4 linked regions of the Homo sapiens genome follow. Changing the gene in region 3 together with the main gene of any one other region gives a genetic interaction. Each region holds a gene or a part of one and is shown on either strand. Other genes may lie near its edges.

Evidence for each region. Genes that interact genetically often act in the same process or in processes that back each other up.
Region 1: changes in DAZAP1 (region 3) and SEC24C together harm fitness less than expected from each alone (positive genetic interaction), as found in Homo sapiens cells (one large-scale study listed by BioGRID).
Region 2: changes in DAZAP1 (region 3) and ARFGAP2 together harm fitness less than expected from each alone (positive genetic interaction), as found in Homo sapiens cells (one large-scale study listed by BioGRID).
Region 4: changes in DAZAP1 (region 3) and TRAPPC10 together harm fitness more than expected from each alone (negative genetic interaction), as found in Homo sapiens cells (one large-scale study listed by BioGRID).

Annotation. Positions count from the first base shown.
Region 1 is NC_000010.11:73,764,872-73,768,371, reverse strand, and holds part of SEC24C (protein transport protein Sec24C), read right to left. Parts: intron 2,922-3,500; coding exon 2,783-2,921; intron 2,573-2,782; coding exon 2,457-2,572; intron 2,287-2,456; coding exon 2,162-2,286; intron 2,023-2,161; coding exon 1,831-2,022; intron 1,613-1,830; coding exon 1,519-1,612; intron 1,319-1,518; coding exon 1,202-1,318; intron 536-1,201; coding exon 365-535; intron 1-364. UniProt on the Homo sapiens protein: Component of the coat protein complex II (COPII) which promotes the formation of transport vesicles from the endoplasmic reticulum (ER).
Region 2 is NC_000011.10:47,170,380-47,173,879, forward strand, and holds part of ARFGAP2 (ADP-ribosylation factor GTPase-activating protein 2), read right to left. Parts: coding exon of another isoform or gene 3,462-3,500; coding exon 3,380-3,461; intron 3,104-3,379; coding exon 3,047-3,103; intron 2,373-3,046; coding exon of another isoform or gene 2,331-2,372; intron 1,955-2,330; coding exon 1,902-1,954; intron 1,422-1,901; coding exon 1,285-1,421; intron 1,179-1,284; coding exon 1,047-1,178; intron 1-1,046.
Region 3 is NC_000019.10:1,424,586-1,428,085, forward strand, and holds part of DAZAP1 (DAZ-associated protein 1), read left to right. Parts: intron 1-1,292; coding exon 1,293-1,375; coding exon of another isoform or gene 1,376-1,376; intron 1,377-3,500. UniProt on the Homo sapiens protein: RNA-binding protein, which may be required during spermatogenesis.
Region 4 is NC_000021.9:44,099,309-44,102,808, reverse strand, and holds part of TRAPPC10 (trafficking protein particle complex subunit 10), read right to left. Parts: exon of another isoform or gene 2,743-3,500; intron 32-2,742; coding exon 1-31. UniProt on the Homo sapiens protein: Specific subunit of the TRAPP (transport protein particle) II complex, a highly conserved vesicle tethering complex that functions in late Golgi trafficking as a membrane tether.

The sequences.
Region 1 (3,500 bases), on a different chromosome or scaffold from region 3:
GGAGTCTTACTCTGTCGCTCTGGCTGGAGTGCAGTGGCGCAATCTCGGCTCACCACAACCTCCACCTCCCGGGTTCAAGGGATTCTTAGCTTCCTGAGTAGCTGGGATTACAGGCGCCCGCCACCACACCCGACTAATTTTTGTATTTTTCGTAGAGATGGGGTTTTGCCATGTTGGCCAGGCTGGTCTTGAACTCCTGACCTCAGGTGATCTGCCTGCCTCAGCCTCCCAAAGTGCTAGGATTACAGGTGTGAGGCACCGTGCCTGGCCCCAACACTATTTCTATTAATGAGTCAGCCACTGCATATATAAGCAGATATTCCCAGCCCTGCTGCCACCTGCTGCCCCAAATCCCACACCATACCTGAAAGGAAGCATATTTGTAGACAGAGCCACCAGTGAGCTGGGGCACAACAGAGAGTGTGGCCACATCCACATACTGGTTAGGGAAGAGAAAGAGATCTACACAGCAGCCTTGGGCCACACACTCTTTGGCCAGGGTCTGATAGGCACCTGTCTGAGGCTGGAACAGAGTCTAGGGGGAAAGAAAATGGGGAGAAGAAAATGTTCAAATATCTCAGCTCCGCCCTATTTGAAAACTGTATATCTAGCATGGGATATTCAAATTCATGGAAGACTTCAGATCTACTTCCAAGGATTTTCCAATAGTAAAAAATTTTCTTTTATATTATTTTTATTTTTTTGAGACAGGGTCTCACTCTGTCACCCAGGCTGGCATAGAGTGGCATGATCTCAGCTCACTGCAACCTCTGCCTCCCAGGTTCAAGCGATTCTCCTGCCTCAGACTCCCAAGTAGCTGGGATTACAGGTGTGTGCCACCACACCTGGCTAATTTTTGTATTTTTAGTAGAGACGGGGTTTTGCCATGTTAGTCAGGCTGGTCTCAAACTTCTGGCCTCAAAAATCTGCCCGCCTTGGCCTCCCAAAGCGCTCGGATTACAGGCATGAGCCATCATGCCCGGCCAAAAGTTCTTCTTTAAAAAATAAATAAATACAAGAGTCTACCAACAGCTTTGGCATCAGATGGAGTAGAGAAGTATGGCAGCAGTGGAGGTTGGCAGTCACAGATATGGTATTTGAAAGGGTGGAGTGTCTGGTCCTAGCCACCATCAAGAAAGTAGAGTCCCCACTTCCTCTGTAATGAAAAATCCTTCCCCTCCCCCATTTTCCAGTCCCACACCTTCTCCTTGTCTGTATTGATCAGCTTCCTGTCATCTCTGTTCTTCAGTTTCCCTGGGGCCTCTGCAATGGGCAGGGATGTATGGAATAGAAAGAGCTTCCCTGCACACTCAGCAGCCTAGGAAAAAAGAGAGGACTACTTGTTTATTCTTTATTCATCCATCTCTTCCCTTGTCATTTATTAAGCACCAGCTATGTCAGACAGTCTAACACACTGGACAGTCACCCACTACTGAAGAAAGAGAGGTTGTATCCCAGGGGATAAGATGGTCAGAGGAAAATGGAGTTAGAGGAGGTTGCCCGATACTCCAGCCTTACCTTCAGAGCCTCCATTCCAGCCTGGATAACTGGTACAAATACTGTCTCTGTTTCCCTTGTGTCTGCAAACATTTCTGGAATCTGATCCAATAAGCTAAAGAGATAGGTGACGGAAAACAACCAAAATTGCTATACAGATTCCAGATACCTCAGTTCTCGATTCCCTGAAGAGTCATCAAGCCTCTAGAATCTGACAACTCCTGGGCCACAACCCCTTTCCATCTACTGTCCAATACCTCTGTTCAACTCCATGACCTTCTATGGTGGTACCCATGCCACCCCCAACCTTTACCTCCACAATCTGGCTCTTACCTGGTGATAACTGCCCGAGACTCATTGACGTTGACCAGGAAGCCATCCAGCAGTGGCACAAACATGTCAGCCACATCAGACACAACCATCATCTGTGGCTGGGCCAATGAGCTCTTCACATTATAGAAGTGGAGCACCTTATTGTAGGTGACAAAGCCAACGCGGATTGCTGACTCTTCTGCCCCACCCTCCCTGTAGAAGGTGACATTGTTACCTAGACTTGCCACCTTTTCCACCACCCACAACTTCATGACACCAAGCTACATTTCTTCAGTCAACCCAGACACCCTATCATTAACCTCAGGAAACACCTCAGTTCTGTAACTCTCACCTAGGTAGAAAGTCTAACAGTGACTTGAGCTCCTCACAGAGGAGCCTAACAAGACCAGTCCTGATGGCATTGTAGGAGACGTCAATCATGAAGATAAAGGCAGGAGGGCTGGGGAACTTATTGTTCTGCAGAGGAAGAAAATGTTGGGGAGAGGGGGAATGGTAAGCAGGCCAGTTGACTATAGAGAAGTCAGCATCAAAAAGGGACAAAAAAGGGGTGAGGGAAATGATAACAGCCATTCTCAGCTGTCTCATTATCCTCCACTCACTGCTCCTCCCATGCTACCTTCCCTCACCTTGCAGTAATCTACAGTGGCCAAGAATTCATAAGAGCCCAGGGATAGCTCAGGGCGGTCATAAGCATCCACACGTTTGCCGGTATGATCCAGGTGCTGAAAATACTGGGGGGGAACTGTGGGAAGCATGGCAGTGTGTTACTCGAAGATCCAGTTTCAATCTTAGTATTCTGGCCCTAGCTGAGCTCACACCACTATCCCTCATTCCCATGTGCCCTACTTCCCCAGCTCCTGAAAGATGGACCCTCATCTCTCTAACTATTTAATAGAGAACAAGGAAGATACAATCAAGACCTTCCCCCAAATCCCAGCTTCCATGAACATACCATCATTGATACAGCTGCAAAAACAGCACTGGAAACGCCTCCCTCCTTCAATGAACTGCATGAAGGGACACATGTATGCTTTGCAGCGGTTGCAGCGCAAAGGGCCAGATTCCCCATGGTCCACAACATACGGTGAAGCCTAAGGCGCAAAGGGGAAGGGATCAGACATAAAGGAAAACCACAGTAGGTTCAGCCAGGAGATGAGGAAGAACAACCGGAGGAAGAAGGCGCATGGCGCAGATATTCTGTCTGCAGAGGGAGTAGGGAGCACAATGATGAAAGGGAGTAAAGACAAATCACAGGAAAATGTCCCTATGAGTAAAAATTATATAGTTCCCTCTTCCTACATCCCACCCCCAGAGCTGCATTTCTCACTGAAAGAGAAGAGGAAATGCAAAACCGGCCATATCAGACTAGGGGCTGCCATGGGCATATGAGGGAGAAAGCCAAGATTATCTAGGATTCTCCTTTCTGGCCCCATCTCTAATGCCCTTCACTCTTGCTCTAAGAATCTTGATTCCAGCTCCTTCCCTAACCAAATATCTGTAACACCTCCTCCCGTATCCCTGGGATTCTGTGCCAGTTACTGATGCCCCAGGCAAATGTCACCCTACACATAAGAGACCAGTGCCCAACTATCCCCAATGGGACCCAGATAGAAATAGACAAACACACAGAGAAAGACGGAGAGATAAGCAGAATATAAACTGAGCCTTTG
Region 2 (3,500 bases), on a different chromosome or scaffold from region 3:
TCATGCCTGTAATCCCAGCACTTTGGGAGGCTGAGGCAGGTGGATCACTTGAGGTCAAGAGTTCGACATCAGCCTGGCCAACATGGTGAAACCCCATCTCTACTAAAAATACAAAAAATTAGCCAGACACGGTGGTACACACCTGTAATCCCAGCTGCTTGGGAGGCTGAGACAGGAGAATCACTTGAACCCAGGAGGTAGAGATTGCAGTGAGCCAAGATCGTGCCATTGCACTCCAGCCTGGGTGACAGAGTGAGACTTTGTCTCAAAAAATAAAAATAAAAAGCCATAGCAGCCAGACATGGTGGCTCACATCTGTAATCCCAGTACTTTGTGAAGCCAAGGTACTTAAACCCAGGAATTCGAGACCAGGCTGGACAACATAGCAAAACCCTGTCTCTACAAAAAGTAAAAAAATTAGCTGGGCATGGTGGCTCCCGGCTGTGGTCCCAGCTATTTGGGAGGCTGAAGTGGAAGGATCACCTGAGCCCAGGAGGCAGAGGTTGCAGTGAGCTGAGATCACACCATTACACTCCAGCCTAGGCAACAGAGCAAGAATCTGTCTCAAAAGAAAAAGAAAGAAAACCACAGCAAACCGAGTGGTTCTGAAACAGGAAGGATTCCACCCAAACTGAGGGCATTTGAAATGTGGGGGATATGTGAGGGTATTACAGGGAGCACAAATGGCATCTCTAGACAGGAATTAAGGATGATACTAAATGCACCGCAATTCTCAGGGAGGTCTGGAAAAATAAACTGTCCCATGACTCAAAGTGCCATCAAGAAAAACCACCCTAGTCTCTTGAAGATACTGAAATAACACCTGATCCTGTGTTTTGTTCACATACCTATTCAGTCATTCAACTTACTGAGCACATACCTACTATGCGCCAAGCACTGTATTAGGGACTTTAGAACAATAAGCCAAGTGATCTATTCAGACTTGGAGAAACAATAAGCCTAGCATCCCAAACTGCTAGGAAGGCCCCGCAATGGTTCCCAGAAAACAACGGCATTTCCCTGCCACACCCGGAGCTGAGCCTCACCTTCGGGATACCAAGCCCATGCCCAACCTTTCTGCCTGCTCTCGCTTCTTCCCTTCCAGATTCTGTAGCTTCTTTTCCTCTTTCTTACGATCAATCTGGAGCTCCTGGTAGGCCAGACGCATGGAGGCGACCCTTAGGGGGAACAAAGGTGTCAGTGGCCACCACCCATCCTGACCTGTCCAACATACCCACCCACCAAGCCCCGCAGAAGCCTGAGGCCCCGGCAGCAAACACTTACATGGACTCCTCCGCCTGCTTCTTGGCATCGGCTGCCTGCTGCTCACGGAGCTTCTCTGCCACCTGAGCCTGCCGCTCAATCTCACTGAAGCTCTGGCTGCTCACCTTCTGGGCCCCTAGGCCTTTCTTGGCACCCAGCTGGGAACAGAATCATGTAAGGGGCCTTCCCAATCACACTCTCCTCAGATCCCTCCCAGGTTCAGGCACTGTAGCCACACCCACAAGGAAAAGGCCCTTCTTAAAATTTAGGGTAAAAAACAGGAGCCCAACCAGCATGGCCAAGACAATAGTGCTCCGCTGGAGCTGGGCATGGGCGGCTCACACAGCCCCAGCAGAGCCCGGGCCTGAGGACGGCAGTTAATGCTGACAGGGCCAAGTATGTGCCAAGCACTCCGCCAAGCACTAGATGTGCTCCATCTCACCGACTCCTCCCAGCAGCCCTTGAAGACAGGCTTTAAATCCCTTTAAATCTTTAAATCCCTTTCACAGGCGAGGTTCGGAGAAACACAGTACCTTTGCCAAAGTCATATAGCTGGTAAGTGGTAAGGTCAAGGAGTGAACCCAGGTAGCCTGCACCCAGCTCCTAACCCCTCTACCATACCACCTCTCCCCACCTACCCCTTTCTTAGCTGCTGCTGGCTTCTTCTTGCCAATGATGGAGCTTTTCAGTTCTGCGTGAGAAACGGGTAGGCATGAGCTAAGACAAAGGCAGCTCAGAGGCAGTAGCTCAGTATACACCATGCAGCTTCATGGCAAGAGCTCCTAAGAACAGCTTCAGGCAAGGGAAGGCAAAGCTGCCACCACCAGCTCCAACCAGCGGTGTCAAAGCCAAAGACAGACGTGGCTGGGGTATTTACTGGCACCCAGCAGAGTGAGACAGGAACCTAGACCTGAAGCACCAGAGACGTCCGAAGCACCAGAGACGTCCAAATTCCCTGAACCAAAACAAAGACTGCGAGGCAGGGAGCATATGGTGAGCACCAGGCTCCGCTTCTAAAGCAGGAAGCTGAGAACAGGGGCTGGGCTCCCCAAGCAGCTGTCAGTTACCTCTGGCAGGAAGGGCCCCTTTAGCTGACAGATACACGGACTCTGGAGGAGAAACAGACTTGTGGCTAACAAGAGGCCCACCCCAGAGCCTCCACAGAGCTCCCAAGCCCAGCGGTCTCTATGAAGCCCTGCTTCAGACCAAGCTATGCCAGCCTTCTCATGGATCAGTCTGACAGTCACTCTGCTGGGTTCCAGCCCCAACCCCCAAGAGTCAACAGAACAAACCGAGGTCAGCAAATGGACTGTTCGCCCTGAACCAAGTCTGAAAGACACTAAGGAAAATGTAGGAAAGAGTTAAAGGACAGGCTGGGGTACTGGCTGAGAAAGAACAATGTCACCTCCAGCCTTCGGCAGCTCAGAGCTGTCCCTCCACCCCCGGAAATGCACCAGACAAGCCAGCCCTGCCTCAGAGCCCAGGGATAGGTGTCCAGTCTCATGCTGGCCTCCCCAACACTTTGGCTAGACCCAGCCCCACACTCAGAGGCAGACCCCAGGCCTTATACACCAGCCCACCCAGATTCATCAATTCAAAGGGCTTGGCTCTAAAATCAGTGTTGCATCCACTATTTCAATCACAGTCCCCACTCCAGAGAATCAGATAGATGCTCAGTCTCCTGTGGCCTCTGTCCACACGGCCAGGCAGTAGGACCTCTGAAAAGAACATTTGAGGTCCACCCTCTCCCAGACACCCCACGCCTGCCCGCTGGCATACTGACCCAGTGAGGCTTTGGGTGAGGTGCCAAGCAGGTCTGTGTTGGGGCCATGCTCCGGCTCTGTGGATGCAATGGTAGGAGTTAGAGATGAGCTCCTAGCTTCCTGCAACCTCCCCTTGAAAGAAGTGATGGGACAAGAATCGGTGGCTTTCCTCAGCTTGCCACCAAAAGATAAAAGGAATATCTACCACTTCCTCCAAGGATTAAAATGAATCCCGGCCCACCCAAAGATACAGGAGGACCCCTGCTCCTATTGTCATGGCCAGATGTCCCCTTCCAAACCCTGAGTCCTCTCCTAGGACCAGGGCACCTGGTTGGAATCTGGGCTGAACTCACGTGCCAGGCCACTGCTCTCTGTAGACGGGGCTGGCTGCTGGGTCCCTGAAGGCTCAGTGGCTGGCGCATCCCAGGCAGGGGGCTGAAAAGGAGGCCAGATCACAGATGCCTCGGTGAGCCA
Region 3 (3,500 bases):
GAGAGGCCCCACAGTAGGCTGCTCCTTCCGGGGGCCGTTGCCTGTTCCCACCCCCCACGGCCCTTCTCTGCCGCGCTCGTTCACGCCTCACGCCCGTGCTGCGCTGTCCCCTGCTGTGTGGTGCCTTGTCACGCACCCTGTGCCTCTGGCGCGGGCAGCCCATCTTCAGCCCGGTCTCAGCTCTTCCCATGTCCATCTTTGTTCTGTGAGGTCTTGGGCAGCTGTCTGCCGGGCACTTCCATCTGGGGAGGGGCTGGTGCCGCCTGGGCCCCGCCTCGGGAGGACGGTGTGCTTTGCGGTGTCACGCTCCACCTAGCCGGGGAGGCCTGGAGAGCCCGGCGCACTCCTGCGCCTAGAGGAGGAGACCCGCCCCGTTAGCCGGGGGCCGCGCCCACCCCAGACCCACTAAACTTCGTTTATACTGCCACTCTTGTGTTTGGGAAATGCTAAATTTTTTTTGCCTTTAAAATTTTCTGTTTTGATCCCATGGTGCATCTCGCTCTTGCTGCTGGCAGCAGAGTCTGACCTGCTGGAACCCGTTGTGGCCTGTATCTTTGTGCATTGTTTCTCTACCTGTATAGAACATGCATAGATGTCTACGATATGACCTCTTCTAGGACTCCTTGGGCTTACCCAACGGTGTTGCGTAAGCCTAGCGAGGCACCAGCTATGATAGATACTGTATCTGTTAACGCTTTAGAACGATATATGGCTGCTGTCAGCACTAGCTGCAAAGCAAATTGCAAGCCAAGGGGGAGAATCCTGGGTTTCAGAGAAGCATACACACATCCACGGTGCACACCCCTGACTAAGATGGCGCATTCCACGCGGGCCCCCGGCCTGCAGGGTTCACTGGCAATCTCCCCACAGGCGAGAGCCAGAATATTCAAGCACGGGCCTCTGACCCTCCCCTGGGGGGCGCTTTGTCTGCCAGTAGCGATGGAGGCCCTCACCGTTCCCCTGTCTCCGCTGCTGTTTTATAAGATGTGCTCCTTGTTCCAAATCTTTGTGACACGGAGCCCCAGCCCGGGGTGTCTGGGGCGGAGGCTTGACTCAGGCCTCAGTCAGCAGAGCCGTCACCGGGAGTGCGGACGTCACCGTCTGTCCACTCCGTGTGCAGTCGAGTGGTGGCTCCTGGGGAGGGAGGCAGCTGCCCCAGGGGCCCGCAGCGCCCCACACACAGCTTAGCTGAAACCCAAGGTCGATCCCTCGGCCCGTCCCTAATACTGTTCATCATCCTGTTTTGTGTCACAACACCCTGCTACCTTGATTCACTCTTCGTCGTTGGCTAGGTTTTGGATTTATTACTTTCGAGGACGAACAATCAGTGGACCAGGCTGTCAACATGCATTTTCACGACATCATGGGCAAAAAAGTGTGTAGTTGTAGTTTTATTTTACCTTAAGACCAAACCAAGTCTTAGGCAACTTAGGGGTTTCACTGGAAAGGAACATTCCTTCACGGAAAGGGTCGGGCGAGTTCGTCCTGTGAACCTTTGCTGCGTGAGGTGGGCCTGGGTCTGTAGACGTGAGGAGGGTCCCATCCTTCCCCAGCACCCTTCCTGCGGGGTGGGGATCTCTCAGCTTTGCTCCTGGAGCCCCTCCCTCTGGGTGACCTGGGACTGGGCGGGTAGGGGGCTGGGGCTGGGAGGCTGTGGCGGTGTTGGGGCTGGCTCCAGTGAAACCGCAGCGTTGCCTCAGGCTTGGTTTCCACGACCACTCCTTCAGATGTCTGCAAATCCCCATTGTCTGACACTGACCTGTAATGTGATCAGCAAGGGACCTTTGAGAGCCGAGGTTCCGCTTAAAATGGAAAGCACAGTGGAAACATCATGAAGGACTGGTTGTTTGAATTGGGTCACTTACTGTGGAACTCCGGCACCAGCCACATGCTCTCGGTAGTACTCAGCCACCATGCAGTCAAGTGACCTCTGGTTGTGTCATCTTCATACTGTGTTACCCCCGGAGGTGAGAGGGACAGGAGGCCACCCCCCCAACCCCCAGGCCAGCCCTTGGAAGGCATGTGTCAGAAAGGGGTCCCTAAATCCTTGTTTTACCTGGACCCTTGGAGGTTCTTGAGAAGTGGACTCTGAAATAAATAACTGGTAGAAATTCTACAGTGTGGAATTTCTTGCAGTTAGCAAAAGCTTAGGGGTCCAGGTTTTTGCAGGATTCCTGTCTTGGTCCTTTCAAACCAAGGAGCTCTGCTGGCTCTGCCAGGCCGCCTCACATGCCCAGTGGGATTCTGACCCGGCCTCCTTGGTGCGGCAGCTTCTCCCGTTAACGGAAGAAGACGCTTAGCCCCTCTGACAGGGCCATGGTTGTTTTTTCAATTAAAATGTCCTGGAGGGAGCATCGTGCTCATTATCTCCTGCCCCTGCCCTCTACCCCAGCCAGAGGTCTTGATAGCAGAACTTTTTTAAAAACAGTAGCATGTGTAGTTATTTTTGTATACACGTGGCTTAGATTGGGTTGCAGACTTCATTAATTCCATTTGAACCCAACTAAAACAGGAGACACAATCCTTGTTCTGACATCGAGTGCAGCTTGTGGTTTAAAATGAGCCTGCCGGCTGCATGGGTGCGCGACAGTACAAGCAGGGCTTCAAGGAGTCTGCGCCCAGTGTTTTAAGGGACTACGACACTGACAATTTGGGGAAAGCGTGGTCTTGATATACGGGGCAGAAAGAGCTCTGTACAGTGCACACACCTGCTGCCGTCCCTGGGCAGCCCCTGGGTCCCCCCAGCCATGACTGTTCTGCGCGAGCTCCTGAGCTGGGCGACCTCAGTGTGGGTCTCGCCTTCCAAGCCAGACAGTCGTTGGAGTCCAGCTTGCCCGGCGCCGGCCTTCACTGGTTGGCTGGAGCGGCACTTGGCGTCGCCGCCGGCCCCTCATGGGGGTTTTCCGTTTGTGGAGTGTTTGGTACCGCGTGGTAGTTAACCCTCCATGCCAGGCGACTGCATTGCTGCATTCAGGTAGGAAAGGGTGAAAGAATTTTTTTTTGTTTTTGTTTTTTTAAAGTACAAGGACCGCTCTGCTTTGTAAGCAGGAACCGCAGTCCCCTGAGGAGGGTGTGTGAAGACTCGCTCATTTGAGTTCTTTGAAATGGGTCCCTTGGTCCTGCTGTCACATTGCCTTGAGCTAACGGATCCTGTTCCCATCATAGGCCGGTCCTTGGGGCATTGGGCAGGTGGGGGCTTTGTGCCTCTGTGGCTGCTGCTGTCTGTTCTCTAACAGGCAGAACTGAGGGATTCTGAACTCAGGATGTGCAGCTCTCCAGACTGAGACCCCAAGGCTGACTCCAGGTGGATCCATTGTCTCTTTATTCTCATTACGATTTATCAGAAAAGTGAGACAAATTCAGGATTCTCAAATGCTGAGGCAGCCCCGGAATTGGGGGGATCTTTCTGTTGTTAGTCCACCCATATTTTCAAGCAGGCATTAAAGGAAGGTCAGCCACTGCGCCTAGAATAAGTAGGTCAGGCCTGCTCCATCCATTGT
Region 4 (3,500 bases), on a different chromosome or scaffold from region 3:
CACACTGCCCAGTTGCTACTGTTGTCGACAACTGAAACGAGAGGAAGCGATGTGTCATCCAGGACGGGCCTTCCAGTACTCAGGCGAGAGTCACGGCCGTCGTTACCCAATCCTCTCACCCAACGCTGTCTGACAAAACACTGCGGACACAGAGCCCAGTGCCTTGTAGCTGCGCCTGAAGATAAAGCCATGCACTTTCACGGTGGCAACCCCTATTTCATTGAGTCCAATTTCAATTAGTTCTGGATTAGAATGAATTATGCTGGACGTGTACAGAAAACTGCATTTTTCCTGTGAGGTTAATAAATGATTTAATTTTGTTTTCAAATTTTTGTGTCATCTTCCACAGTATGGTGACTTTGGCAGTTAATGGGTTCTGTCTGGTAAGTGGCAGTATCCAAGACCACTGGGTCTGAAGCCAACTCTGCCACTCAGAAGAGCACCCCAAGGCCTCCAGGCTCAATGACCGCTGTATAGTGCTGAGACCACCACCAGCCTCACAGAGCTGCTTTTTAAGGATGGAAAGAGAATACGTATGAGGGAACTACAAAAAGTTCATGCAAAAATGGAATCCAAAGATGAAAACAGAAAATATAAGCTTTATTTCTCAACATAAGCCCCACCAAGGTCAAGACATGTTTGTAAGCAATGATGCCATTGCTTACGATGCCATTTAGTCCATCCCTGAAGAACTGGGAGGCCTGAGAATTTAGCCATGTCAACGCAGTCTTTCTCTACATTATTAGCTGAATAAAAATGGGTGCCTTTTAAAGACTTCTTAAGATCAGGAAACCAAAATCAGTCAGAAGGAGCCGAATCAGGTCCACAAGGTGGATGCCTCATGATTTCCCATAGAAACCCTCACGAAGTTGGGCTTGTTAGAGGAATGAGCAGGAGCTTTGTCGTGGTGGAGGAGGACTCTCTGGTGAAGCTTCCCCAGGGGTTTTTCTACCAAAGCTCTTGCTATCTTCCTCAAAACAATCTCATAATACACAGACGCTGCTGTCCTTTGACTCTCCAGAAAGTCAACAAGCAAAATGCCTTGAGTATCCCAAAAACCTGTTGCTGTGGCCTCTGCTCTTGACCAGTCTGCTTCTGCTTTGGTGGGGCCACCCCACCTCTTGGTAGCCATTGCCGTGTCTGCTTTGTCTTCAGGATGGTACTGGGAAGGCCACACTGCATCTCCTGTTATGGTTCTTTGAGTAAATGCTTCAGGATCTTGATCCCGTGTGTTTGAAGTTTCCATGGGAAGCTCTGCTCTGGTCGGCCACGGACCTGGGTACTAGGGTTTTGGCACCCACTGAGTGGAACGCTTGCTCACCCTTCAGGCGTAATTGCATAAGCTGAACCAGTTCAGATGTCTGCGGTGTTGGCTGTCATTTCTGCTGTTGTCAGTTCCCTCCAATTAGGGCATGAACAAGGTGAATTTTTTCCTTGAAAATGGATGTGGATGGTCTGCTTGCTATGGCCTTAATCTTCAGCATCATCTCGTCCCTTCTTAAAACAAGATATCCATTTGCAAACTACTAATTCTTTGGGGCACTGTCCAAAGAATTTCATAAACTTTTCATAAAGCATCAATGATTTCACCATTCTTCCACCCAAGCTTCACCATAAATTTGATGTTGGTTGTTTTGTTGTTGTTGTTGTTGTTGAGGCGGAGTTTTGCTCGTTGCCCAGGCTGGAGTGCAGTGGCGCAATTTTGGCTCACTGCAACCTCCGCCTCCTGGGTTCAGGCAATTCTCCTGCCTCAGCCTCCCAAGTAGCTGGGCTTATAGGCGCCTGCCACCACGCCCAGCTAATTTTTGTATTCTTAGTAGAGATGGGGTTTCGCCATATTAGCCAGGCTGATCTTGAACTCCTGACCTCAGGTGATCCGCCTGCCTCAGCCCCCCAAAGTGCTGGGATTACAGGCGTGAGCCACTGCACCCGGCCAATGTTGGTTCTTGATTTAATTTTAGCAGAATTCATGTTGCTCTGATAGGGGCTCTTTTAAAACTGATGTCTTATCCTTCTTAGTGCCTCAAACTAGATCCTGCTCAGTGAGTAGGAGCTTATTTTGGTGCAAAAAGTGTTGAAATCCATGCATAGTTTTTTCATAACGTATCTTCCATGATTTTTTTGAAGACCCCTTGTATGTAAAGCACTTAGTACCACTCCTGGGACATGGTAGTGTCTTAATATATGGCAGGTGTTATTATTAACATTAATTATTAAAACACAACCATCATGTAATTCAATGCAATTCAAACACTTAAGTGATCATTCACTGGGACTAGCCCTGGAGATATGAAAGTAAGCAAGACAGGATCCTTGCCATCCAGTAGCAGTAGACCTGGTAAAGAGGTCACAGCTTCCCATCATGAGGATACCGAGCAACCGCCCAGGGGGAGTGAGTGACCAGAAGGCCACGAGCAGCAGAGAAGGGCTCAGGGAGGTGGACATCCTGTAGTTGGGGATGGGGGACCTTTGAGGACAGGAGCTACTACAGGACATGCAGAGGCCCTAGGAGTGTCAGGAGGAAGGCAAAGGAGTGACAGTTCTCAGAGTGTGGCTCTCAGGGCACCCGCAAGCTCATAGCTTTCACACTGCTGCCTTTCTACGCTGCTGACCTCGCGCTGCTGGGGCAACCACAATGGCATGAACTCGGGCCAGACTGCGCAGTCATGTCACTCATGTTCTTTACTACCATGAACTCACAGCAAAAAAACAAAAAAAAAAATGCCACGCTTCACAAAGCAGTCAAAAGTGCTCATTTTATTAAATTCAGCTCCTGAGTAGACTTTTTTTTAATTGTGAAATGTTTATAGACTCACAAGAAGTTGTAAAAGTAGTAGAGGGGTCACATACCTTCATCACCAGCTTCACCCAACTGTGCCATCTCGTGTAACACAGGAAGCTGACACTGGTACCATACAGTGACCCAGGCTGCAGACCCCACTGGATTTCACTACAGAGTGAACCAGGCTGCAGACCCCACTGGATTTCAATACAGATAGAACCAGGCTGCAGACCCCACTGGATTTCACTACAGAGTGGACCAGGCTGCAGACCCCACTGGATTTCAATACAGCTAGAACCAGGCTGCAGACCCCACTGGATTTCACTACAGAGTGGACCAGGCTGCAGACCCCACTGGATTTCAATACAGATAGAACCAGGCTGCAGACCACACTGGATTTCACTACAGAGTGGACCAGGCTGCAGACCCCACTGGATTTCAATACAGATAGAACCAGGCTGCAGACCCCACTGGATTTCACTACAGAGTGAACCAGGCTGCAGACCCCACTGGATTTCAGCAGCTTTCGCAGGCATTCTTTGGGTCTAATTCTATGGCATTTGTCACATGTGTAGATTCGTGTAACAACCACAGCGGCCCTGGCCCAGAACTCTCCATTACCACAGAGGACGGCCTCCTGCTGCCTCCCACTGCTCCGTGGAACACTGACCCGCTCTCCTTCTGAGGCTGGCATTTTGAGGATGTCATTTAGAAATGG